Linked DNA regions of Homo sapiens. The protein of the gene in region 5 purifies or fractionates together with the protein of the main gene of each other region. This does not show direct contact. Each region holds a gene or a part of one and is shown on either strand. Other genes may lie near its edges. The genes, in order: CCDC6, EIF2B3, MYCBP2, OPA1, DEPTOR, MAPKAPK5 and COPG1.

Region 1 (3,500 bases), on a different chromosome or scaffold from region 5:
TGCCTCTGGAGCCAGCTCAACAAATTTCTGGGTGTTTCTCACATGCCAAGCACTGAGGAATGTGATGAACAAGGCAAATTCTGCCCCCAAAGAAATTTACACATGAACCGGGAAAGATCTCGATAGTCGAGTGTCAGTGACGTGGGGTGGGGGGGGTGGTGTCTATGGAACCACGGAAGTAGGTGCATACCCCAGTAGCAGGTGCATACCCCGGTGTGTGGCTGACAAAGAGGAAGTATCAGGGCATACCAGGAAGGGGTTCAGGTGGAGAAGGCAGTACAGTCTATTTCAACTGACAAGGTAGAAAAGAGGGGAGGAATACAGAAGAACATTTAAGGGGACGAGCGGCACCATTGAGGAGCCAGAGGAAATCTACTGAAGTTCTGGGTGCTAGTAGTAAAGGAGTGATGTGAGAGCTTAGAGAATGCACACTGGGCTAAACGCATGTAAGAGGTGTGGCTGTGAAGCAAGCAGGGCATTCCAATCATGCAGAGCCTGGTAAACCACCAGAAGGTTCACCTGGATCCAAGGACAATGGGGAGTCATTCAATATGTTTAAGCAAGCAATGGCTACCTTCAATTTTTGCTGTAGACCAGCCTCTCTGGTCCTGAACAAGAGTCACCACAAACCAGATACTGTGAATTCTCTAATGATTCCCCATCTCTAGCAAATAGGAAGCACTGTAAAAGACTGTCATGACCTTTAAAATTTCAGCTTTTGGCTGGGCATGGTAGCTCACACCTGTAATCCTAGCACTTTGGGAGGCAGAGGTGGGTGGATCACTTTAGGCCAGGAGTTCTGAGACCAGCCTGGACAACATGGTAAACACCACCTCCACTAAAAATACAAAACTAGGTGGGCATGGTGGCGCATGCCTGTAGTCCCAGCTAGTAGGGAGGCTGAGGCATGAGAATCACTTGAACCTGGGGGGCAGAGGTTGCAGTGAACTGAGATCGCACCACTGCACTCCAGTCTGGGTAATAAAGCTGTCACACACACACAAAAAAAACAAACGGTTTTTAAAAATTAAGTACAAATAGAGTATATGAAACACATAGAAGATACTTACAAATGTGAAAAAACTCGTAAATGCTGAAGAAATAGGAGAATGGCCTCTTTAAGAAGACTTGTGTACAGTTAGACCTAACTGTGAGGTCATATTTTCCTCAAAGTTGTGTCTAAAGTTGTGTGTTTCCATAAGAATCTAAGAAATACTTTTCTAAACGGGGGGAAAAAAGACATCACACTCTCATCGTCACATTTATAAAGGCAATATCGATTTGTAGCTTCAGAGTCTGACAAAAGTCTTAAAAATTGAAAATAACATATTAGACTTCCAGAGTAAATAATCCAAAATATACAACATCAACTATATGGCAGATTTTATTGGTTAATGAAACCATTACACTGTTGATGTTTAAAATAGCCAGGTTTTCTAATCATGCCAGACCAACATATTTTTCTATTATAACTTCAAAACACCTTGTACTTCTGTATTTCCCTTAACTTCTACAATAAAGGATTAATTTTACAGTCAGAGAGACACTTAAATATCAGTGATTTATTATAGGCCTTGATTTCCAAACCAAACACATACCAAAGGTCTGAAACTGCCTGGAAGAGGTACACACCCTAGAGAACCACCTGAGGCCCTGCTTATACACGGAGAATGCCAGCAACTAGCTGAGAACTTTGAAGCCATCCAATTACTGCCCACAATTGCATTTCCTCACCTTCTCTAAGACCACCACCCCACAATAACCCTCACTACACTGAATCATATAATCCACAATCACATTCTCACTCATAGGACAAACCAACAGATCTGGCCTAACATACAAAAGCTACTCAAAAAGGTGACTATGCATTTGTTTATTTCCCCTACTCCAAAAAAAAGAAATTATGATCTGTAATCAGTAGCCTGATTCCCCTGCTGACTTCATGGGGAAAATTGAATAATCACTCAAAATATTCTATTCCACTTTTAAGCCCCAAATAAAATGGCCTAGGGCAGGCTATAACTCACAGGTGCACTGGGCGCTTGTGGACACGACTGAAAGACTGCTTACTGTTGATTGTCTCCCACAGATGATGTTTACCACTATTATACAGATACTGAGAACACAGGCCCATGAAACTAGTCGTTCATTAAATGGGTAGTTTGACCAGAATAGCCGCTTACATACCAGAAGAGACCATTGGTTAAGAGCTTCTATTAGCCTTTGGACTTGGCTTTAAAAAGGGCATAACAGAGATATTACTATACACCTATTGGAATGGTCAAAATCTAGAACACTGACTACAGCAAATGTTGGTGAGCAACAGTAACTCTTTTTTTTTTTTTTTTTTTTTTTGAGATGAAGTCTGGCTCTGTCACCCAGACTGGAGTGCAGTGGTGCGACATTGGCTCACTGCAACCTCCACCTCCTGGGTTCACGCCATTCTCCTGCCTCAGCCTCCAAAGAGGCTGGGATTACAGGCATGCAACACCATCCCCAGCTAATTTTTCTGTATTTTTTTCAGTAGAGATGGGGTTTCACCATGTTGGCCAGGCTGGTCTCGAACTCTTGACCTGAGGTGATCCGCCTGCCTTGGCCTCCCCAAAGTGCTGGGATTACAGGCATGAGCCACCGCGCCCGGCCCCGCCAAAGCAACTCTTATTCACTGTTGGTGGGAATGAAAAACGATGCAGCCACTTTGGAAGACAGTTTGGCAATTTCTTATAAAACTAAACATACTCTTACCATATAATTCAGCAATCATGCTCTTTGGAATTTACCCAAATGAACTGATATCTTTCCAGACAAAACCCTTCATATGAATATTTCCAGCAGCTTTATTCATAATTGCCAAAAGGTGGAAACAACCAAGATGCCCTACAGGAGGTGAAGAGATAAATTATGATACATCCAAACAATGAAATACTATTTAACTCTGAACAGAAAACAAGATATAGGAGTTGGGGAACATGGAAGAAACTTAAATGCATTTACTAAGTGAAAAGTCTGCATACTGTATGATTCCAACTATATGACATTCTGGAAAAGGCAAAACTAAGGAGAGAGTAAAAAAAATCAGTGGTTGCCAGGAGTTTGCAGGGAGGGAAAGATGAACAGAGCGTGGAAGACTTCCAGGGCAGAAAAACTCTGCGTAATACTATAATGGTGGACACATGTCATTATACATTTGTCTAAACTCATAGAATATACAAGACCAAGTAAACTCTAGACTTTGGGTGATAATGATGTATCAACGTAGGTTCACTGACTATAACAAATGGACCACTATGATGAAAGATGTTGATGGTGGAGGAGGCTGTGCCCGTGTGAAGGCAGGGGTTACGTGGGAAATCTCTGTACTTTATGTTCAGTGTTACGTGAAGATAAAAGTGCTCTAAAAAAATAAAGTCTATTAAAAAACAAAACAAGTCGGGGGAAAAAAAGAGCCCGGCTCTTCCCCAGGGTGTGGCAAAAAGGCAATGTGTCTTCCTGAACTTGCT
Region 2 (3,500 bases), on a different chromosome or scaffold from region 5:
GAGAACATAAATTGATAAAGCCATCTTTGGAGAGCAGTTGACATCACTGTCAATTTTTTTTTTTTTTTCGGAGTTTCACTCTTGTTGCCCAGGCTGGTGTGCAATGGTGCAATCTCAGCTCACTGAAACCTCCGCCTCCCGGGTTCAAGCGATTCTTCTGCCTCAGTCTCCTGAGTCGCTGGAATTACAGGCATGTGCCACCACGCCCAGCTAATTTTTTGTATTTTTAGTAGAGATGGCGTTTCTCCATGTTGGTCAGGCTGGTTGCGAACTCCCGACCTCAGGAGAACTGCCCACCTCAGCCTCCCAAAGTGCTGGGATTACAGGCGTAAGCCACCGCACCTGGCATCACTGTCAAATTTTTTTACTTTGACTTAACAGTTTCATTTCTAGAAATTAATCTTATAGATAAGCTTATACATGTATGCACCCTTAATCTCAAAACCTTGAAAACATATCAATAGATCTAATGGCCCAGGTTGGCACCAATACTGTACAGTGATTCTTGAAGCCTAGGCACAGTGGTTCATGCCAATAATCCCAACACTTTGGGAGGCTGAAATGTGAGGATCGCTTGAGCCTAGACAACATAGCAGGAACCCATCTCTACAAAAAAATTAAAAATTAGCCAGGCACAGTGGCACACACGTGTTGTCCCAGCTACTCAAGAGGCTGAGGCAGGAGGATTGCTTGAGCCTGAGAGGTCAAGGCTGCAGTGAGCTGAGATCGCACCACTGCACTCTAGCCTGGGTGACAGAGGGAGACCCTGTCTTAAAAATAATAATAAAAATTAAAATGACTGATTGCTTTTGGTATTATTCCTAAACCTAAAATAAGGTGGGGAGGGGAGTTGCTGAAGGAATTAACCCCACCAACTCTGTAGACGCCACATCATTTCCTTCTTCAGTTTCTTCCCCCTTCCCTTTTTTAAAGTCATATGCCTTCCTTTTGGGCTTTAGAATCAAACAGACCTCAGTTCACATCTCAACTCAACTTAGTGGCTGTGCACCAAGTGAAATTTTTAATCATTAAGCCCTCAGATTTTCCTTTTTTTTTTTTTTTTTTTTAATTTTAATTTTTTGAGACAGAGTCTTGCTCTGTCGCCTAGGCTGGAGTACAGTAGTGCTATCTCAGCTCACTGCAGCCTCCTCCTCCTGGATCCAGGTGGTTCTTGTGCCTCAGCCTCCCGGGCAGCTGAGACTACAGGGGCACACCACCACCCTTGGCTAATTTTTGTGTTTTTAGTAGAGACAGGGTTTTGCAATGTCACCCAGGCTGGTCTTGAACTCCTGGCCTCAAGCAAGCCACCCACCTCACTTTCCCAAAGTGCTGAGATTACAGGTATGAGCCACTGCGCCCAGCCCCAGATTTTCTTAATTAGACAATTGGGACAATAATAGCTACCTTGGAGAATTGTGAGAATTACATATAATTAAATGACAGGTATATGCACTACTCCTTGAGTGTACCAAAAGACTTAGAATTCCTCATACATACCGTGCCATTATACCTCTCCATGCTTTTACATGTGCTCTCTCTAGATTTCCTCTCTTGAAGACTCCGACCAAGTGTTTTCTCCTTTGTAGAACCTTCTCTGCCTCTTCCCATGACTCCCCATAGCAGAACTACACATTCCTTCCACTGTGTCCTTGAGCTTTGCCACACCTTTATTAAAGTATGTTTCACAAGCCATGGCAATTATCCGTGAATCAGCCTTCCCTACTAAGATCCTCAAGGTCAGCTGGGCATGATGGCTCACACCTGTAATCCTAGCACTTTGGGAGGCCGAAGTGGGCGGATCACCTGAGGTCAGGAGTTCGAAACCAGCCTGACCAACATGGTGAAACCCCGTCTCTACTAAAAATACAAAAAATAGCCAAGTGTGGTAGTGCATGCCTGTAATCCCAGCTACCTGGGAGGTTGAGGCAGGAGAATTGCTGGAACCCAGGAGGCGGAGGCTGCAGTGAGCTGAGACTGCACCACTACACTCCAGTCTGGGTGACAGAGCAAGACTCCATCTCAAAAAAAAAAAAAAGATCCTCAAGGTCGATTGTCTCATAACTATATGCATCCCTAGCTCTCAGAACAGGTCCTGATTTATGGTAAATGCTCAGAAGGGGAAAAGAGTGAATGAATGAATGTTGGATCCATGAAACATATTTTGGGGGATTTCAGGGTATAAAGTTAGGGTTCCAAGAAAGGCCTCTGTGCGATGGTTGCAATCATCATGAGATGGGCTTCATAAACTCCTGGGCTTTCTGGCTTTAATTAACACTATGTGTCCACCTTTTAGCAAGGAGACCCTTTAATGGTCCTGCTGAAGGAGGGCTGGCCAGGGAAGTCATCTTGTCTGGGCTCTAAACTGGACAACCCCACCACTTCCTTCTCTCTGTCCTCTGCTGGAAGGACCAGTGCATCCAGCACAGTGGTCAGTGCCCTCCTGCCACAGGAACTCCCTGGCCAGTTGCCTTTTTCCACTATTACTTCTTCTTTTTTTTTTTTTTTTGAGACTGAGCCGTATGGTGAAAGCAAACTCCTAACCATCAGTGCAGCACTCAAGACTTGTTACTATAGGTGACCTAGGCAAACACCAACAACTCACATCCTTACCAGCAAAGAGCTCAATAGATGGCAAAGTCTTCCGTCAGTCTTCCTCACATGAAGGGGTTTCAGGAAAAAACATTCATCCTAAGAAATAATGCAGTCTCAGCCGGATGCGGTGGCTCATGCCTGTAATCCCAGCACTTTGGGAGGCTGAGGCGGGTGGATCCCTGTGGTCAAGAGTTCGAGACCAGCCTGACCAACATGGAGAAACCCCATCTCTACTAAAAATACAAAAAATTAGCCGGGCGTGGTAGTGCATGCCTGTAATCCCAGCTACTTGGAAGGCTGAGGCAGAAGAATTGCCTGAACCTGGAAGGCAGAGGTTGTGGTGAGCTGAGATCACGCCATCACACTCCATCTTGGGCAACAAGAGCGAAACTCCATCTCAAAAAAAAAAAAAAAGACATAATGCAGTCTCCTCTCCAAATTCTAATCATTTTCATGCTCCAGAGTCACCACATCCATAGCAGTCTTTTTCCCCAAAAGTATGGCTCGTAACTCAGTGTAGGCCTCCCTACCCTCTTCTAGCACCAACACGAAAACAAGCCATTTTATAACAACTCTGACTTTTCTCACCCCATCCCAATACTCTCATTGGTTATCTCTGGCAAAAATACTGGCAGCCAAATTTGACCTTCTCAAGCAGTAGAATGGCTACAGCTAACAGTCAAAACCTAAAAAATGGCTGGGTACAGAGGCTGTAGCTCACGCCTGTAATCCCAGCACTTTGGGAGACCAAGGCGAGTGGATCACTTGAGGTCAAGAGTTCGAGACCAGCCCAGCCAACATGGTGAAACCTCATCTCTACTAAAAATACAAAAATTAGCTGTGTGTGATGGCACACACCTGTAATCCCAGCTACTTGGGAGGCTGAGGCAGGAGAATCACTTGAACCT
Region 3 (3,469 bases), on a different chromosome or scaffold from region 5:
TTTCTGTTTTGGAACAACACATTTTTGTAATGCTTGTCATGATGATTTTCAAAGAATGACTAGCATTCCTAAGGAAGAACTACCACACTGTCCTGCAGGTATGCTTTTAATATTTTAAAATCACGATTATGATCTATATACCATAGTTTTATGTAAACATTATATGAAAGCTCTGTTTCAAGTGACAGAAACTCAATTCAAACTAGCCTAAAGAAGCAGGAGGAATTCCTTGATCCTTGTAAGCTTATGACTTTCTGGGTGAATTAGGAAGCAGGCTCATCATCATGAGTGAGAAGTTAGCTGTGACGGAGCAGATCTCATGGGGAGTGAGAATGAAGTCTACTAAGGATTGGTGAAAAGATGGCTGTTCAGCACTAAAAAGTCATATGAAGTTCAATATTACAGAACCATTTAAAAGGATTCTGTGATTTTTTTTTTTTTTTAACGAAGCCTGGAACCGTTGCCATAAAATGAACCAAGTGATTTAATCTAGAATGGCTGGGAATCAGTAGTGTAGTGAGCATCAGAAAGTCAAGGGAATTAAAGAAACCACTCAGAATACAGGAGAAATTATTGTCTATGGAAAGCAGGCTGAGGGGAAAGAAGTATGAAACCAAAAAGAAGCTGAAAATACTGGAAGAGGACAGGAGGCTAGTGGCAACGGTGAGGTGGAATACCAGGCTTCACGGAAGTGAGAGAAGTGGAAGGAGAGGTCCGTGCAACCATAGGAGAGAATTTTACATAAGATATATCTGAAATTAGTGAAAATACATGCACAAGTACATACAACACAATATACCGTGTTGTCAAAGCTAGAAAACACACACTGCCATCTGCTGCCTATCAGAGTGCAAGTGATAGACCTCTCCGGAAAACAGCTTAATAGTGCCTCTCAAAATTACCAGCGTATCAACCCTTCAGCACTCCCTCTTCAGGGATATAGCTACAAATGTGAGGACAGTAAAAAAGGGCAAATAAACAAGGTTATTAACTACAGCTTTGCTATGATAATAAAAATGTATAAACAATGCTAGTGTCCAGTAGGGTAGTGGCTAATATTACGCATCAGTTTAAAAAAAAAAAAGAGTGAGGATGGTGTTTCTGTGTGCTGATTTGGAAAGATCTTCAGGAGATAGCATCAGATGAAAAAAGTAAATTAGGCCAAGTGGTGTGACTGACACCTGTAATCCCAGCACTATGGGAGACCGAAGCAGGTGGATCACTTGAGGTCAGGAGTACGAGACCAGCCTGGCCAACATGGTGAAACCCCATCTCTACTAAATGTACAAAAATTAGCCAGGCATGGTGGCGGGTACCTGTAATCCGAGCTACTCACGAGGCTGAGGCCAGAGAATCACTTGAGCCTGAGAGGCGGAGGTTGCAGTGAGCCAAGATTGCGCCACTGCACTCCAGCCTGGGCGACAGAGCTGTTTCAAAAAAAAAAAGCAAATTGCAGAACAGAGTATGCAGTATGCTGCCTTTTGTAAGAGGGAAAATGAGACTATCTAGTCATATTTGTTTATATTTACATAAAGAAACCCCTGGAAAGATACTCAAGAAACTAATACTATTGATTAACTATTGGGAAAAGCAAGAAAAAGATGAGGGTAGAGACTAGGGAAAGTTGCTTCCAATTGTGTTATCATTTTTAACATTTTGATTTTAAACCATGTGAAACATATACTATCCATTTCAAAATAAAGATAAGTAGGGTTTTTTCAAGTATGACTACTTTTTACCATTTGCTCATGTCAAATAAAAATTGTTTTACTGTTTCTCCTCAAATACTGTTTTTTTTTAATAGAAGTAGCAGGCTTTGAAAGAAGCAAGGCCAGAATGATGTGAAGCCAGGTTATGGAGGATAATGGACAGAACAGAGATGTGAGCCATGCTTGGAGGGAGGGGGTGATGTGCTGGAGGTCAGCAAGTGAAGGGAGTGTGGAAAGGGCAGTATTCTAGATGACTCTAGATGACTTGAGCTTGGAGGAAGGGCAATTATTGAATGAAAGTTGTAGGTTGTGGTCTGGAAAGAAATAGGAGCCAAGAGAAAAATCAGTCACACGTTGTAGCCATATGACCTGGAGGAGCTTGGGAGATAACCAGCCTCCAGTTGAGAAAGATTTAAGGCAAGCAGTATCTTCAGGGGAAATCTAGATTTTACTTAAAGTTTCCTCTATGTTAAAAAACAGAAATAAGAATGCTAAAAATAAGGAAGTTAACAATGAAACACTTTAGAGAACTCAGTGGTGGGTAGTAGCTGAGAGAGGAGGGTCAGGTTTCCTCACAGGATCAGGGCAGCCAACACAAAGGAATCACAGGAGGGAGGCGGGGGAGGAGCCAGAGTTGGCAGAAGGAAGGAATGACCTCGGTCCTGGGCATTTTCACACATATTTGCTCCATTTTTACAATCTGCGAGTAGATGGTATTATCCCTATGTTATCAAATGGAAAATTGAGGGCTAGGGAGGTTAATGAACTGGCCTAAGAACATACACTGAGATTGAGGTATACTCTCCCAGCCTCACACATCCCTCTAACTCATCCATTCATTTAGAGAACTGGAATAGAATAAAGGAGATCCCACAGGGATGTGAGTAGGGAAGATGGCCATATACAGTTTACTTAGAAGGACAGAAGAAGCAATTCTCTAACCACTCTCAACCCTGTTAATTCTAATATTTTTAGATAATCAGTCTTCATCCATTCAAGCTGCTATAACAAAATACTGTAAACTGGGTAGCTTATAAACAGTGGAAATTTATTCTCACAGTTCTGGAGACCAGGAAGTCTAAGATCTAGGAATTAGCAGTCGAGGTGTCTGGTGAGGACCCACTCTCAGCCTCATAGGTGGCACTTTCTTGCTGTCGTGGAAGGGCAGGGGGCCTCTCCTGGGTCTCATTGATAGGAAGAGCACTAATCCCATTCATGGATTCCACCCCATGACCTCATCACCTCCCACAGCTCCACCTCCTAACACCATAACATTGGTGTTAATGTTGTAGTCTCAGCAGTGCACCAAGATATAACAGTCTCTCATTGTCTGAGATAATGCCAGGAGTTCTTTGTCCTACCTCCAAGAAGATTAAGGAGCACAGATACAAAGGTGAGGTTAGAGCGAAAGTTTAATAAGCAAAAGAAGAAAGCTCTCTGCCAGCAGAGAGGGGGGCCCAAACAGGATGCTCCCGTGAGGCTGGGGCCCAGGGTTTTTATGGACTGGAAAGGGGAAGGAATGTGCTTAGTCTGTGGGCTGTCTTGGCCCGCAGCGTGACTCAGCTTGGCCCGGGACCCTGGCCCAGGAACCCACTGGAGCCCACTGTGCCTATGCCCACAAAAGGAGAGAGCCCCCTGACTATACAAAGGACAAAGGCATTTCTATCCCAGGTCTTGTCCTTTATCTGATTGAAGGTTTTTCTGTCTGTGCAGCCGTGGGCATGTCTTTAGGCACAATGCCCTGTGCTAGTTCCCTCATC
Region 4 (3,500 bases), on a different chromosome or scaffold from region 5:
GTAGAAGGCACAGCCAGGAGGCCAGTGTGGCAGGAGCTGAGTGAGGGGAGAGTGGTAGGAGAGGATGACAGAGACCCAGTTGGGAGGCCTTTGGATTTTATTCTGAATAAGATAAGAGAGAAGTTAAGAGAATGAGAATATTGGAAGTGGAGTCAATGAATATAGATAATTTTCTAGTTTTATTGTGACAAAAGAGCAGAGAAATGAAGCAGTAGCAATTGAATATTGTTGAATTAAGGGAAGGTTTTTAACCCTTTTCCTGTTTAGAAAAAAAGTGCAGCTCAACACCAGTGCTCATTTAATTTTACGTAAACACACTCTCTGAAGCTGAAGCAAATCTGACTAATTTTCAATGTGAAAATAAAATATAAAAACTGTTCTTAGAGTTATTTCTAAACAGTACTAACATCAGAATCGTCCCAATCATCAGAATGTCTGTTTTTTAAAAGTCAGATTTATCAAATCAATCTTCGGCCAACAACTTTTTGAGAATGATGTAAACATCACACATAGGAATTCCGCATTTTCTAGGATTTGACATTTTCAGCTATTGAAAATTACTATATTTTGTAAATGGACGTACCGCTACTAAAAACAGAATGCTTGAAATAGAATGTCTTTTGTTTCCAAAGTCAGTACACTAGAGCTATGTGAAAATAATCATAAAAGTGAAGATATTTTATGGCAGAGTTATGTTGGGGCAAATGCTGCAGCTGCAAGCGGTGCTGGCAAATATTGTCGGAGCAAGTGGGAAAAGGATTAAAGATGTTTATATGCTGATTATAATGATCTAATAAAGGGGGGAAATGATGCAAGAGAGAGGGAAAATTGCAAGAGCAAAGTTACTGAGGTGAAGGAGATTGTGACTTGGTGTACTAGTCCATATCTGGGAGCACTGACAATTTCTCCAGGGTCACAGGAAGAAGGTATGGGGCTGCAGAGTCTTTCATTGAACAGATATTTACGGAATGCTTAATATGTACCAGTAGCATTCTAGGCAATATGTTGGTAAACAGCAACAACAAAGAAGAACCTTGCCTTAATGGAGGGTATGTTCTAGTAGAGGGAGACAGATAATAGATAATAAATATAATACATAATTGTATAGTAGGTTAGAAGGCAATAGTGTTGTACAACAAGAAAAAGCAGAACCAGGCAAGGAGAATGAGGGTGCCAGAGTATTCATAGATTGCATTGATAAGGTGGCATTTGAACCAAGATTTGCAGAAAGTGAGGGAGTAGTCCTGAGGATATCCTGTGTTCAGCAAGGAGAATAGCTGATGCAAAGCCTCTGAGGTGGTTGTGTGGCTGTCATGTTCAAGGAACAACAAAGAGGCCTGTGTGGTCAGGTCGGGGTGAAGAGCTAGCCATGGTCGGGGCAAATGATGACATTAGAGGAATAATGAAGAGCGGGGAGGAACAGATCAATAAGGCCTTATAGGCCATTGTACAGACTTCCGTTTTAAGTAAAATGGAAAGCCAGTGCAGGATTTCGAGCAAAGTAACAAAAGTGCCTTTTAAAAGGCTGCTCTTTTGAAAATAGTTGTAGCCAAGATGTAGAACCAGGGAGTCTAGGCTACTGGAGTATCCAGGTGATACTTGGGCTAGGGAAGTAGCAGTGAAACTGGTAAGAAATGGATAGATTATAAATGTGTTTTGAAAGTAGAATTAACAGGATTTCTTGACAGGTTTGATATGGAGAGGGGAGAGAAGAAAAGCAATGGGGAGAGAGAGAGAGAGTGTCAATCATCAATGATGCCTCCAGGGTCTTTAGCCTGAACAAATTGAAGGATGTAGTTTGCATGGAAGTCTGTCAGTGGATCAGGTTTGGGGGAAGAAGATCAGGAGTTCAGTTTTGGACTTGCTGAGTGGTGATAACAAGCAGTTGGGTATACAAGTTTAGACAGAGGTGTGGGCCAGAGACATACATTTAGGAGTCATGATCAACTATCTAAAAGTAGTATTTAAAGTCATGATCTTACTGGAGAAGATCTTCAAGGGAGTGAGTAGAGATAGAGAAAACACAGAAGCAAGCAGTATATTCTGGGCACTCTGAACATTAAGATGTTGAGGGAAGAGAAAATAACAAAGGAATGTGTGAAGGCCCAACCAGTATAGTAAGAGGGAAAGCAGAGCAGGACAGTGTGCGCAAAGTCAGGTAAACAAAAAGAAAACATGGAGGAGGAGGGAGTGCTCAGTGAGGTCACATGCTGCTGATCCATCAAGGAAGGTGAACATAGAAACCAGTCGTTGAGTTCACCAGTGGAGGCAAGAAAGGGGAACGTGTGGAAGTTTCCTTCTGATTGCTTCCGCTTACTCAGTGAAATACTAAGCCAGATGATCAGCTGTTAATTAGAAAGGAGAAGAGATTAAAGACTGAGGCAGGAAGAAAAAGTGAAGTCTGTTAACAGATCGTGGTGACTCTAGGAGTGAATCAGTGGAGAAAGTCAAGTGATATTAGGATTACTGAGGTGGACTGAAGTCCCTTTAAGTTCTGTGGACATAAATTTTAAATGAATCATTATGATTGTGTTTTGTTTTTTTCATGTTTAGCTGGTGGGGGGTAGGTGTAGAATAATTGGAAGATTGAAATTACCAAGAATTATGGCAAGAATAGTGGGAGAAAGACAGTGAGGCTGATGCTGAAATCTTCAAGAAATGAAATCTGTTTACAAGTGCAACAGGGTATGGGCAGCCTAGTGTGATTCATCTAGATTGCACTTTTGTGGGTCTAGCTATGGATTGAATCGTGTTATGTGTTACTAGTTCTGTGTGTGGTACTGTGTGACTGTACCAGACTTTACATATCCATTTTACTACCGATGGGAATTTGGGGTACATCTAACCTAGAGAAAAAAACAAAATGAACCTCAGACTACACCTCATATCCTGTTCAATAATCAGTTGTAAAAACATGGGAGAGAAACCTACCTTTTACATTGTTACTAGCATCCTAATTGTAGAAGCTGTGGATGATACTTCAAGAAGAAATTAATTTTGTTTTGGCAGGCAGGGTGTGGACAGGTTTCCTTGAAACAGATGAGGCTGGTCTCTTTCCGGTTTGTCATTAGTCCCTTAGTGTTTACTAGAGCTTCTCCTTGACCAACCCTGAATTCCAGTTTTTTGTTTCCCTAGAGCAGTGAAAGTGCCAAAACCCCAGCTTAGCATTTTAACCTCCTTAGCAGCTTCTTTCTGCTTGGTTTCCTAAAATGTGAATGCCGTGAAAGGAAATTGTGCGCAGGATGTAGGGTTTTGTTTTGTTTTGGAGGTTTATTTCTGCAGTTCATTTTTCTTTGGGATTGTGGCACCTTAAGACGTGACTACTTAATAACTCGGAATTCCAATCTTGTCTACTCAACCCAGTGAAACTGCTACACATTTTAAGTTTTTCTCTTGGGCCTTTGCCCTGTGCTACAAATCAGCAAATCCTCTGATGGAAAATAGCTAAACAGCTTTCCAACAGCTGTTTATTGTTTTTAAATTTAGCCTGTTTAGCTAAT
Region 5 (3,500 bases):
GTCCTAGGTGTTAAGAAGGAAGTGAGGCTGGGCGGCTCATGCGTGTAATCCCAGCACTTTGGGAGGCTGAGGCAGGCAGATTGCCTGAGGTCACGAGTTCAAGACCAGCCTGGCCAACATGGTGAAACCCTGTCTCTATTAAAAATACAAAAATTAGCCAGATATGGTGTTGGGTGCCTGTAATCCCAGCTACTCAGGAGGCTGAGGCAGGAGAATTGCTTGAACCCAGGAGGCGGAGGTTGCAGTGAGCCGAGATCGCATCATTGCACTCCATCCTGGGTGACAAGGGCAAAACTCCGTCTTTAAAAAAAAAAAAAAATTGACCTGCCCCCTTATCCCCACCCCTGGCACTCTTGCTTTCCTTCTCTTTCTTTTTTTCCTTAGCTTTGTAAGGTAGGTTTAGGGTTATTTATGTTTGCTGCTATTTACTGTCTCCATTCAGCTAAAATATAAACTGTGAGGCAGGGATCTTTGCCACTTTTTCTCACTGATGGTCACCTACGAGATATCAATAAATAGCTGCTGAATGCATGGATAGAGGACTTGGAAGTGCTTATGTCTTGACATTGTGTTTGTCTGCCAGTGCTGAAGAGACCTGTCACCTCTGAGGAACTCCTTACTCCCGGGGCTCCGTATGCAAGGAAGACATTCACGGTAGGCTGATGGTCTGGCCTTTTTCTCCCGTGCTGCCCATTTTTCTGCACCGTGTCCATGTGTCAATGGGTAGCTTATAGACTGAAATGAAAACTACTTTTCTAATTTTCTTTTTGTTTTTAGCGTAATTATGATACTAGGCTTTCTTGACCTCAAGGCACTAAGGTGCATTAGGACTTCACATGCGTTATTATTAATATACCATTTAAAAATTTTTTGATGTGTTCTTTGTTAAAGAAAAGATTTCCATTATGCATTTATTCTAATTTAATTGCAAATTTCAAGATTGGCATCATTTGCACTTGCATTTACCTTAAAATCTAATAATTTTAGATTTTATTTCCCACCATTAGTCATTTAAATTATTATTAGATTTTATGGCAAATGGAAGTGCAAATGATGCCAATAATCCCTTCTGCATTAGGATTAATTCTAGAAATTATTTAAAACATTAGGGGAGTGTTAAGCTAGAGAAAGGAAACTGTGGGATAAACTTTTCTACCGTAGGCAGGGTGCTTCGACAATGTGTGCATGCCTTGAGGTACACGAGCCTCTGACTTGCTGTGAGCAGCTCCGGACCACCTGCCCCTTCTTGGAGGTCCTTTAGGTTCCTAATGCCTACGTTGGATTTCTTCAAATGGAATGAAAGTGCTCTTTTCAGCATCACCGCACCCACTCCCCTTCCTGTGTCTCCTTCTGTCAATCTCCTCAAATTCACGTTCATACCCTCTTCAAAACACTTCTCCTCCTTCATCTTCTAACTTTAGTGGCATTGCCTCAGGCTGGGGGAGAATTCTATCCACACTCAGTCATGCTGCAAACATTTGCTGAGGGCTATTTCACATTCTGAATGCTGAGGAGTTAATAGGAGAAAGGCGCTGACAACATGTCTGTACCAGAGGAAAAGATAAACTCCACCTTCGGAAGTGAAATTGAGTATAATATACAAATAACAGCAAACTGTAAAGTAACGGAAGTGCCTGAAAATCTTGAGCATTTCCACAAAAATTTTCATTTGCCTCCCTGTTTTTCCTCAGTCTCCAGCATTCAAGAGAGGTAGATTGTTATTTTGAAAGTATTTATTTTTGATTTTTAATTTAAATGCCAACATTGTTAGTAATTGATTGTGAATGTGTTTCAGCTGTGTTTTGGTTGGGATATGTGTGAAAGATGTGGCTAGGAGCTGTCCAGGGAATTAAACTGCCAGCTCTAATAATGATTTCTATAGAAAAGGCCTTCTCTAATTCCAAACAACTTTTGGATTAGAGTCTACTTGTACATTGTGAACTTTATGTACTTTTTCACTTCTTTTCCCCCCTTGGTGGAGAAAGGGGCATGGTGGAGCCCTTGGTGGAGGGCTCCCTTGGTGGAGGCTGGGCATGGTGGCTCACGCCTGTAATCCCAGCACTTTGGAGGCTGAGGCAGGTGGATCACCTGAGCTCAGGAGTTCGAGACCAGCCTGACCATCATGGTGAAACCCTGTCTCTACTAAAAATACACAAAATTAGCCAGGCATGGTGTTGCATGCCTGTAATCCCAGTTACTCAGGAGGCTGAGGCAGGAGAATCGCTTGAACCCGGGAGGTGGGGTTGCAGTGAGCTGAGATTGCACTACTGCACTCCAGCCTGGGTGACAGAGCAAGACTCTGTCTCAAAAAAAAAAAAAAAAAAGCCAGGTCTCTTTATTTCCCACCATTAGTAATTTCAATAATTATGCTAGACTTCAATGACGTTGCAGGATCAAGAGTGTATCATTTGGATACTGGGGAAAAGAACAAACTTAGAGCAGAAATTGTATCTGGAGAGACATTTCAACCACGTTACGACTTTTTCTAAACCTTCTATTGGAGTCTGACATTAAATTGTATAACAGCCTAAGAAAGAGAAAATCTTCCAGTTGTTTATTGAATCATGCCCTCATGGGAGCATCTTCTTTCTGCCAAACAGGTTAGATTTTTTTTACCACCTTTTCTACAGGGAGATGCCCGGGTTTGTGATAGAAGCAGTGTTCCAATCCCCTGGCAGGGAAGAGAGAAACGGAGGAAAATATGTCACAGTGTATACTTAATCCTGGGCTGGTTTTCTCTCCCTCAGAAGAATAAGCAAATTGCCGGAGACAGTCGGCTGCTTGCTAATTGTGGTTTTCCTCTCTAGATTGTTGGTGACGCGGTTGGCTGGGGTTTTGTGGTGCGAGGAAGTAAGCCATGCCACATCCAGGCTGTAGACCCCAGTGGCCCTGCAGCCGCAGCAGGAATGAAGGTACTAACGGGTCTTTCTCACCCTCTTTTATATCTGTCTTGGGTTCTTCATGCTAAATTGGCCATGATTCTTACTAGGGATCCAAACCCATCTTATTTTGTGTCCTTTTCTATTTCTGCCCTCTCTTTCTTGTTCTCCAAAGTCTTTAACCTTTCCCTGGGTCTTCCCTCTCCTCTAATAAACATTTAGAAGTGTCTAGCCAGGCGCGGTGGCTCACACCTGTAATTCCAGCACATTCAGAGGCCAAGGCAGACATATCACTTGAGGTCAGGAGTTCAAGACTAGCCTGGCCACCGTGGCGAAACCCTATCCCTACTAAAAATACAAAAATTAGCCGGGCGTGGTGGCACACACCTGTAATCCCAGCTACTCAGGAGGCTGAGGCAGGAGAATCGCTTGAACCCAGGAGGCAGAAGTTGTAGTGAGCCAAGATCGCACCACTGCACTCCAGCCTGGGTGACAAAGCGAGACTCTGTCTCTAAAACAAAACAAAACAAAACAACAACAACAACAACAAAACAACATTTAGCAGTGTCTAAATACCTCTAGCTTAATTTCATTATTTGGTGCCATGTGTACTTTTTCTCC
Region 6 (3,500 bases), on a different chromosome or scaffold from region 5:
AAAGATTGCGCCACTGCACTCCAGCCTGAGGGACAGAGTGAAACTCCGCCTCAAGAAAAACAAGGCAGTTCAAGAAATTCATCTCTACCTTATTTGCTTCGGGAAAAAAACTTAACCAGCAGTAGATTTGGCAAACTTTCTCCTCTTTCGTGAAACAGCTCTTCTCTAAGCCAAGCAGATCAGCGGGATCAGCAGGGTGGACTCGCTGGCACTTTGTCCTCTTTCTCCCCTTCAGCATCTGTTGCTTCTTAATGACCTGGTGAATAGTCCTGGTATCTGAGAGGAGTTCTGAAATTTGGGGGTTTTTTTTACCCAAGTGGTGTGTGATGGGGGCTTTCTAGTGTTGAATCTGCAATACACAATTCACTTGAACTCCGGAAAATAAGTGAAAGGGCCAGATATCCAGGTATGCCTGGGCAGTTAATGTAGAGCTAACCCCCATTCCACAATGCTCCACTCACTCTCCAGCCAGCCTCACTTCACTTCAAAACAGCCGCAGCTCAGGCCCCAAAGAGATCCTATATGTTCTAAACATAATCACTTGTCTGCATTCCTGGGGAAGGGAGTTGATGAAGGCTCCTACCATTCCAGCTGAAGCTCTGCAGAGTATCTCTTAGGAGTTTGCATTCCCGGTTATACTTCCAAGCCTCCTGCATTACTTCATTCAGTTTCTCATCTTCATTCTCTCCTATTGGTAAGGATGAAGAGGAATTTGCATTTTTCCTGCAGCATCATGGGGTTTTAGTGTGAGAGATGGAGGGACGTGATGTCCAACTGGTTGAAAAATGTTGACTGAATGTGCAAAACTTCACCAGACAAGGGCTTTACTGCTAGTCCCTACATTATGTAGACCGCATCTGGTATGTGGACTCTTTTTTACTCTGACATCTTTATACAAATCCACTGATGGCCCCAGAGTCTTAGCACCAGGGGATGGGAAATAGGCTGTGGCAGACTCTATTGCTGAACAAAAGACACCTGGTCAACCAAAGACCAAAAAGTGGGAGAGTGGGCTACTTTCTCTCCCCTAAGCTCATTTCTTACTTTAGAAAGCTATCTGAGGTACACTACATGAGTTCTCTTAAAACCCAAGGAATCTAGGGAGATAGATAGGTCAACCCAACTGTTTTCTGGCCTAGTACGTGAAGCATCTCATTTATCTGCTGAGAATAGCCCCTCACCCGCCGATGAGTGGAGAGAGAACATAACGAAAGAAAGCTCTCACTCCAAAGGACCCACGTGTAAGTCACTCTGCCCATGACATGAGTAGCAGCAGGAGCCACTTCTGAACTAAGGAGGTATTCTCTTATTTATGAGCTAATGGCAGCCTTGCACTCTAAAGGCTCTGGAAATGGTTAACAGCCTGCAATGAGATTCAGACCCTACCCACATTTTCCATTCTCCATCCCCCAACCTGTGCCCTTGTTGTCAAACTAAGAAAACACAAAATTGCATGCTTGCACCTGACACTGCCAATTAAGTCTAAACTAGAAATTCCACAGAAACAAAGGAGGGGCAGAACTTAACTGCATTTCTAAGCTCCCACTGTCCAATCTTTTTAGTGGGCATAGACTACCTTATATAATGTACTTTTCTTATAACACAAGATGAAACAGACAACCCAAAATTAAACCATTCCTTTTGCCATGTGCATGCATACACCCACCCACCCCTGCACACACACACTCACAGACACACAGAGGATTAGTAAATGGTGTGACCTTTACCAGCCTGGGGGAGAATACACTGAGCAATCACATCTCGGAGTTTTTCCAAGGCAACATTGGAATCCTCGGCTCCATTCTCATGGTCGTGGATATAGACACTGTCCTTTGGCTTGGTGCTTTAAGAGTTTGAGGGAGGGGTAATGACAACGTGAGACCCCAAAAACCAACTCTGGACAGATATTACCTCTAAACATAAGGCAACAGATGTATCAGAAAAATAACAATAGTGTCCAACTCCTGATACTATTTAAAGAACTTATCCTCTCCACCCTCTTCAGAGGCTAAAGACCCCTAGCTGAGCAAGTTAAATTTCTTAAATTTCAGAACCCAGTACTCAGCCATTCCAGCCATGAAGAAGAATCGAAGAAATAAGCTCAGTTACCCAAGTAACTTCCTCTTCCGCAGAATGGGGTTGTTCACTGAGTGCAGGGGTTTGAGGCTGACTTTCAGATCCTGGATTCTCATGTTGGCCAACTGTTCCGCGTGAGCCTGCTGGATTCCTGCAACCACTGCCTGAATGCAAACACTGCCGTCAGTTTTTCATATTCATTGCTGGGCACCTAAAAAGCCAGTCTAAGAAAGTGGAAAGGAAAAGCTCAAAGTACTAAGAAGGTAATTTCACTCTTATGCTGAAGGAATATAAATATTTTGATAAGGCAAAGGACTTTTCCCCATGGATCAACAGGAACCAGGAAACACCAGGCCAACCAAAGGTCACACAACAACTAGCCCTTCTTCCCTGGTGGGGGGACAGAAATGCGAGTAAGAAATACCAGCAGGAACCCCACTCAAAGCCACTACTGAGGGGAAGTGTAAAGAGGCACATATGGACATCAGCGGAAAGGCTGGCAGGCTGCTGCCCAAGAAGCCTTACAGACGGTATTGATTCACCTCAGCCCTGACAGCTCAGAGCCCTGACCATCTCACATGGCCAAGGCTGAGGCCACATGACCGAGGCCACAACCAGTCAAGTAATTTACAGTGAGAAATAGCTGTCATGGAGTCTGGAACTCTGGAAGTTTGTGCTTTTATGAACAGTGTATAATCTCACTACGGGCAGACGAAATCATCAGAAGGCTTCATAGGAATATGATCCCATTTTTGTATTTTTTTTTCCATTTTTGTACTTTAAAAGAAGGACAGAATGTGTGTGTGTGTGTGTGTGTGTGTGTGTGTGTGTGTGTGTATCCCAGAAAACGATCAGGAAGTATACATCAAGCCATAGATTACCTCACCTCTGAGGGGTGTGACTGTGGCAGGGAATGAAAGGGAACTTTTACTTTTTAACACGGCTGTACCACCTGAATTTTCACAACAAGAATTTTTTTGAGAGAGTCTTGCTCTGTCTCCCAGGCTGGAGTGCAGTGGTGCAGTCTTGACTCACTGCAACCTCTGCCGCTGCCAGGTTCAAGCAATTCTCCTGCCTCAACCTCCAGAGTAGCTGGGATTACAGGCGCATGCCACCACGCCCAGCTAATTTTTGTATTTTCAGTAGAGATGGGGTTTCCTCATGTTGGCCAGGCTAGTCTGGAACTCTTGACCTCAAGTGATCTGCCTGCCTCAGCCTCTCAAAACTGCTGGGATTACAGGCGTAAGCCACCATGCCTGGCCTTATCTCCTCATTTTTAAGATCTTGAGTAACCTCTATGTGCTGACAACCAGGATCTAAGTAATCCCTTTGGATTTTTGAATGACCAAACCATTTCTGGACAACAGGAAGACAACCACCCACAAATCAAAGAGAAGGCAGAGAACTGTACTTTCCAGTTCTCC
Region 7 (3,500 bases), on a different chromosome or scaffold from region 5:
TCCTCTCCTTCTGAATTACTCCAACAGTCTCTTTACCCAGTCACCCCTCCACTCTGCTCCAGAAGGACTCTTTTTTTTTTTTTTTTTTTTTGAGACGGAGTCTCGCTCTGTCTGGAGTGCAGTGGCACGATCTCGGCTTACTGCAACCTCCACCTCCAGGCCAGGTCAAGCGACTCTCCTACCTCAGCCTCCGGAGTGGCTGGGACTACAGGTGTGAGCCACTACACCAGCTAATTTTTTAATTTTTTTAGTAGAGACAGGGTTTCACCATGTTGGCCAGGCTGATCTCAAACTGCTGATCTCAAGTGATCTGCCGACCTCAGCCTCCCAAGTGCTGTGATTACAGGCATAAGCCACCGCGCCCAGCCAATTTTTTTTTTTTTCAGACAAGGTCTCACTCTGTCACCCAGGCTGGAGTGCAGTGGCATGATCATGGCTCACTGCAGCCTCGAACTCCTGGGTTCAAGTGATCCTCACACCTCAGCCTCCAGAGTAGCTGGGACTACAGGTGCGCATCACCACACATGGCTAATTTTTAAAAAAATTTTCTGTAGGCCGAGTGCGGTGGCTCACGTCTGTAATCCCAGCACTTTGGGAGGCCAAGGCGGGTTGATCATGAGGTCAGGAGATCGAGACCATCCTGGCTAACATGGTGAAACACCGTCTCTACTAAAAAATACAAAAAATTAGCTGGGCATGGTGGCGGGTGCCTCTAGTCTCAGCTACTCAGGAGGCTGAGGCAGAAGAATGGCGTGAACCCAGGAGGCGGAGCTTGCAGTGAGCTGAGGTCACACCACTGCACTCCAGCCTGAGCAACAGAGCGAGACTCCAACTCAAAAAAAAAAAAAAAAATTTGTAGAGATGAGGTCTTGCTACATTGCCCAGACTGGTCTCAAAATTCAGGCCTCAAGTGATCCTCCCTCCTTGGCCTCCCAAAGCACTGAGACTACAAGCATGAGCCACCGTGCCCAGACCCAGAAGGATCTAATATGCAAATCTCACTGTGTCATTTCAGCCTGCAAAGCATTCTTGTAACCCACAGGCAGAGTAGACTGCTGCCTACTTTGCATAATCCACACTATAGAATTTACCACAATATATTATTCATATTATTGTTTGCTCTGATTAAAACTCTCCGGTGACATACTTCATTGTTCTATCAATTAACAATTGTGAAATAACAGAATTACAGAAATTGAGAACAAATTAATGGCTGCCAGGGGTTAGGGAATAGAGAGGTAGGAATGGGCCTGACTATGAAGAGGTAACAAGAGTCTTGTGGAGATGGATAGTTGAGTGTCTTCACTGTGGTGGCAATTTTGAAAGTCTCCACATGACATCTTGCATAGAACTTCACATATATACACACAGGAGTTGCCTGTGTAGCTGGTGAAATCTGAATGAGCTCTATGGGTCATGCCAGTGTCACTTTCCTGGTTGACATTGTCCTGTGCTAGTGTAGGATGCTGGCACTGTAGGAGAGGGTTGATGGAGGGGTGCATAGGACTTCTCAGTATATTTCTTTGTAACTTCCTATGAATTATTTCAAAATATAAGCTCAAAAAATATTCACATCCTTCCTCCTGCCCCAAAAGAACACCTTTCCAATGTCTTCCTTGCAATTAAAACTCTTTACCTGACCATGGGCCTTACATGATTGAGCCCTGTCTATTCTGACTTTGTCACCTGCACTGGCCCCACAGCTCTTCCACCCACTGGCCTTCTCTCTCCTTGACTTGCTCCTGCCTTTCCTCCTGGTTCTTTGCACTGATTCAGGTTTGAGCTCAAATGTCACCCTCCAGAAGGGCCTTCCCAGACTGTGCTCTTCCTAGGATCATCCCTGCTGTATTTCTACACTCTTGACTGCAGTACCCATGCCTGAGATGATCTCGTCTACTCCTTTCTTTACCTGTTTACTGTTCCTCTCCCATCCCTAGAAAGGAAGCTCCAGGAGGGCAGTCACCTGCTTTGTTCACTGCTATGTTCCCCTTTTGTCACTCTACATAGCAGACAGCAAGTGCTCAAGAAATACTTGGACAACAAATCAATGAACCCTTAACTGGCCTGGAAACTACTGTTCTTTCAGTACAAGGGGACGATATGGATGGAGGCCTGGAGGCAGGACTACGCACATTTCTCGGAAGGCCAAGTCTCTGCAGAGCAAACTGCTGGCCTCCTCTGAGTCCTCAAGGCTGACCAGCCCCTCAGGTCAGTCCTGGCAGGAAGGCTGTGGCCACAGAGAGCAGGGACAGAGCTCCTTCCTCTGGGGGCCGTGGGTGTCCTGGGGGTAGCAGGTACCTTGAATTCATCCGAGATTTCTGACATGAAGGAGGAGATCTGCTTCATGAGGCGGTCGATGCTGCTCTCGCTGCCCGTCTTAAGGAGGGTGGTGATGGCCAGCGTGGCAATGCTGCGGTTTGAATCTGTGACCAGGTTCTCCAGATCCAGATTACAAGCTGTCACAGCTGACGGATGCTTCATGGCAACCTGTTTTGGGAGGACAGTGACAGAGAGGGCAGGAACCCAATGCTGTCACTACATTTGATGGTTTGGCCCAGTCAGAAGTCCTTTGGATGAGATCATCTCACCATCTAGAAGAAACTAACTGTGACCAGGGCTATTATCCTTCCCAGCCAGGTCAGAGGCTAGGACACACCTCCAGTTGGATCAGACAGCTTCCTCCAACCCCCAAGCTGGACTCTTACCTTATTGAGGGTACGAACAGCAGCATAGCGGAGAGCAGCCTTGGGTGAGCTGCAGAAAAGCTGGAGCACTGTGGGGAGATGGATGCCACATGTCAGGTTGCCTTCACTGCTGGGCAGCTGGGAAAACCGGGGGCTACTGTTCTGACTCAAACCCTCTGCTCAGCTCATTTCCCTGCTGACACCCCCATCCCAACCCAAGACACAGAGCTCCCCTCACCCTGCGCACCTGAGCCATGGACAGAGGCCATAATGTCTGTGAGCACCCAGGGGTTCCAGTGAGGGCTGTTATTCACTGGGCATCTGCTGTGTGCCAGGTGCTGTGCTATACAGTGGACATGCCTCACTTCTATAGCTTGCAGCCACCACTAGCCCACTTTACAGATAAGGAGACTGAGGCACAAAGGGGAAAGCAAACAAACTTTAGGTTGGCAGCCAGTAAGTGGCAGAACCAAGATTAAATTCCAAGACTGCCTGCACCTGCAGCCTAAGCCCTTAACCTCTGTGAAGTAATATTCCACTCCTCTCTCCTACTGTGTCTACAGGATCCAACAGAACTTCCCCCTTGGCACCAAGTGCTGAAGAACAAAGTCCTCTCTTAAACAAATGGTTTATTTCCTTTAACTAGATGAGAGCCATTCGGGTACCATATCCCTCCCTTGCCCTGGCTGCCCGGAAGCTCAGAGCTAAATTTGGCACTCAATCATAGGAGCGAAGATGACTACTGTTTTCTGGAATATCTATGTTCCTTTCTTCATAACTTGGCTTTTATTCTCTAATACTCAAAAAAAATTTTTC

The links.
Region 1: the proteins of DEPTOR (region 5) and CCDC6 purify together in Homo sapiens (affinity purification with mass spectrometry, with the first as the bait; one large-scale study listed by BioGRID). This does not show direct contact.
Region 2: the proteins of DEPTOR (region 5) and EIF2B3 purify together in Homo sapiens (affinity purification with mass spectrometry, with the first as the bait; one large-scale study listed by BioGRID). This does not show direct contact.
Region 3: the proteins of DEPTOR (region 5) and MYCBP2 purify together in Homo sapiens (affinity purification with mass spectrometry, with the first as the bait; one large-scale study listed by BioGRID). This does not show direct contact.
Region 4: the proteins of DEPTOR (region 5) and OPA1 purify together in Homo sapiens (affinity purification with mass spectrometry, with the first as the bait; one large-scale study listed by BioGRID). This does not show direct contact.
Region 6: the proteins of DEPTOR (region 5) and MAPKAPK5 purify together in Homo sapiens (affinity purification with mass spectrometry, with the first as the bait; one large-scale study listed by BioGRID). This does not show direct contact.
Region 7: the proteins of DEPTOR (region 5) and COPG1 purify together in Homo sapiens (affinity purification with mass spectrometry, with the first as the bait; one large-scale study listed by BioGRID). This does not show direct contact.

Annotation. Positions count from the first base shown.
Region 1 is NC_000010.11:59,900,057-59,903,556, forward strand, and holds part of CCDC6 (coiled-coil domain-containing protein 6), read right to left. Parts: intron 1-3,500.
Region 2 is NC_000001.11:44,854,096-44,857,595, reverse strand, and holds part of EIF2B3 (translation initiation factor eIF2B subunit gamma), read left to right. Parts: intron 1-3,500. UniProt on the Homo sapiens protein: Acts as a component of the translation initiation factor 2B (eIF2B) complex, which catalyzes the exchange of GDP for GTP on the eukaryotic initiation factor 2 (eIF2) complex gamma subunit.
Region 3 is NC_000013.11:77,047,626-77,051,094, reverse strand, and holds part of MYCBP2 (E3 ubiquitin-protein ligase MYCBP2), read left to right. Parts: coding exon 1-98; intron 99-3,469. UniProt on the Homo sapiens protein: Atypical E3 ubiquitin-protein ligase which specifically mediates ubiquitination of threonine and serine residues on target proteins, instead of ubiquitinating lysine residues.
Region 4 is NC_000003.12:193,638,208-193,641,707, forward strand, and holds part of OPA1 (dynamin-like GTPase OPA1, mitochondrial), read left to right. Parts: intron 1-3,500. UniProt on the Homo sapiens protein: Dynamin-related GTPase that is essential for normal mitochondrial morphology by mediating fusion of the mitochondrial inner membranes, regulating cristae morphology and maintaining respiratory chain function.
Region 5 is NC_000008.11:120,006,222-120,009,721, forward strand, and holds part of DEPTOR (DEP domain-containing mTOR-interacting protein), read left to right. Parts: intron 1-583; coding exon 584-654; intron 655-2,807; coding exon 2,808-2,912; intron 2,913-3,500. UniProt on the Homo sapiens protein: Negative regulator of the mTORC1 and mTORC2 complexes: inhibits the protein kinase activity of MTOR, thereby inactivating both complexes. DEPTOR inhibits mTORC1 and mTORC2 to induce autophagy.
Region 6 is NC_000012.12:111,887,228-111,890,727, reverse strand, and holds part of MAPKAPK5 (MAP kinase-activated protein kinase 5), read right to left. Parts: intron 2,241-3,500; coding exon 2,110-2,240; intron 1,844-2,109; coding exon 1,728-1,843; coding exon of another isoform or gene 1,722-1,727; intron 689-1,721; coding exon 584-688; intron 1-583. UniProt on the Homo sapiens protein: Tumor suppressor serine/threonine-protein kinase involved in mTORC1 signaling and post-transcriptional regulation. Phosphorylates FOXO3, ERK3/MAPK6, ERK4/MAPK4, HSP27/HSPB1, p53/TP53 and RHEB.
Region 7 is NC_000003.12:129,259,606-129,263,105, reverse strand, and holds part of COPG1 (coatomer subunit gamma-1), read right to left. Parts: intron 2,774-3,500; coding exon 2,706-2,773; intron 2,488-2,705; coding exon 2,299-2,487; intron 1-2,298. UniProt on the Homo sapiens protein: The coatomer is a cytosolic protein complex that binds to dilysine motifs and reversibly associates with Golgi non-clathrin-coated vesicles, which further mediate biosynthetic protein transport from the ER, via the Golgi up to the trans Golgi network.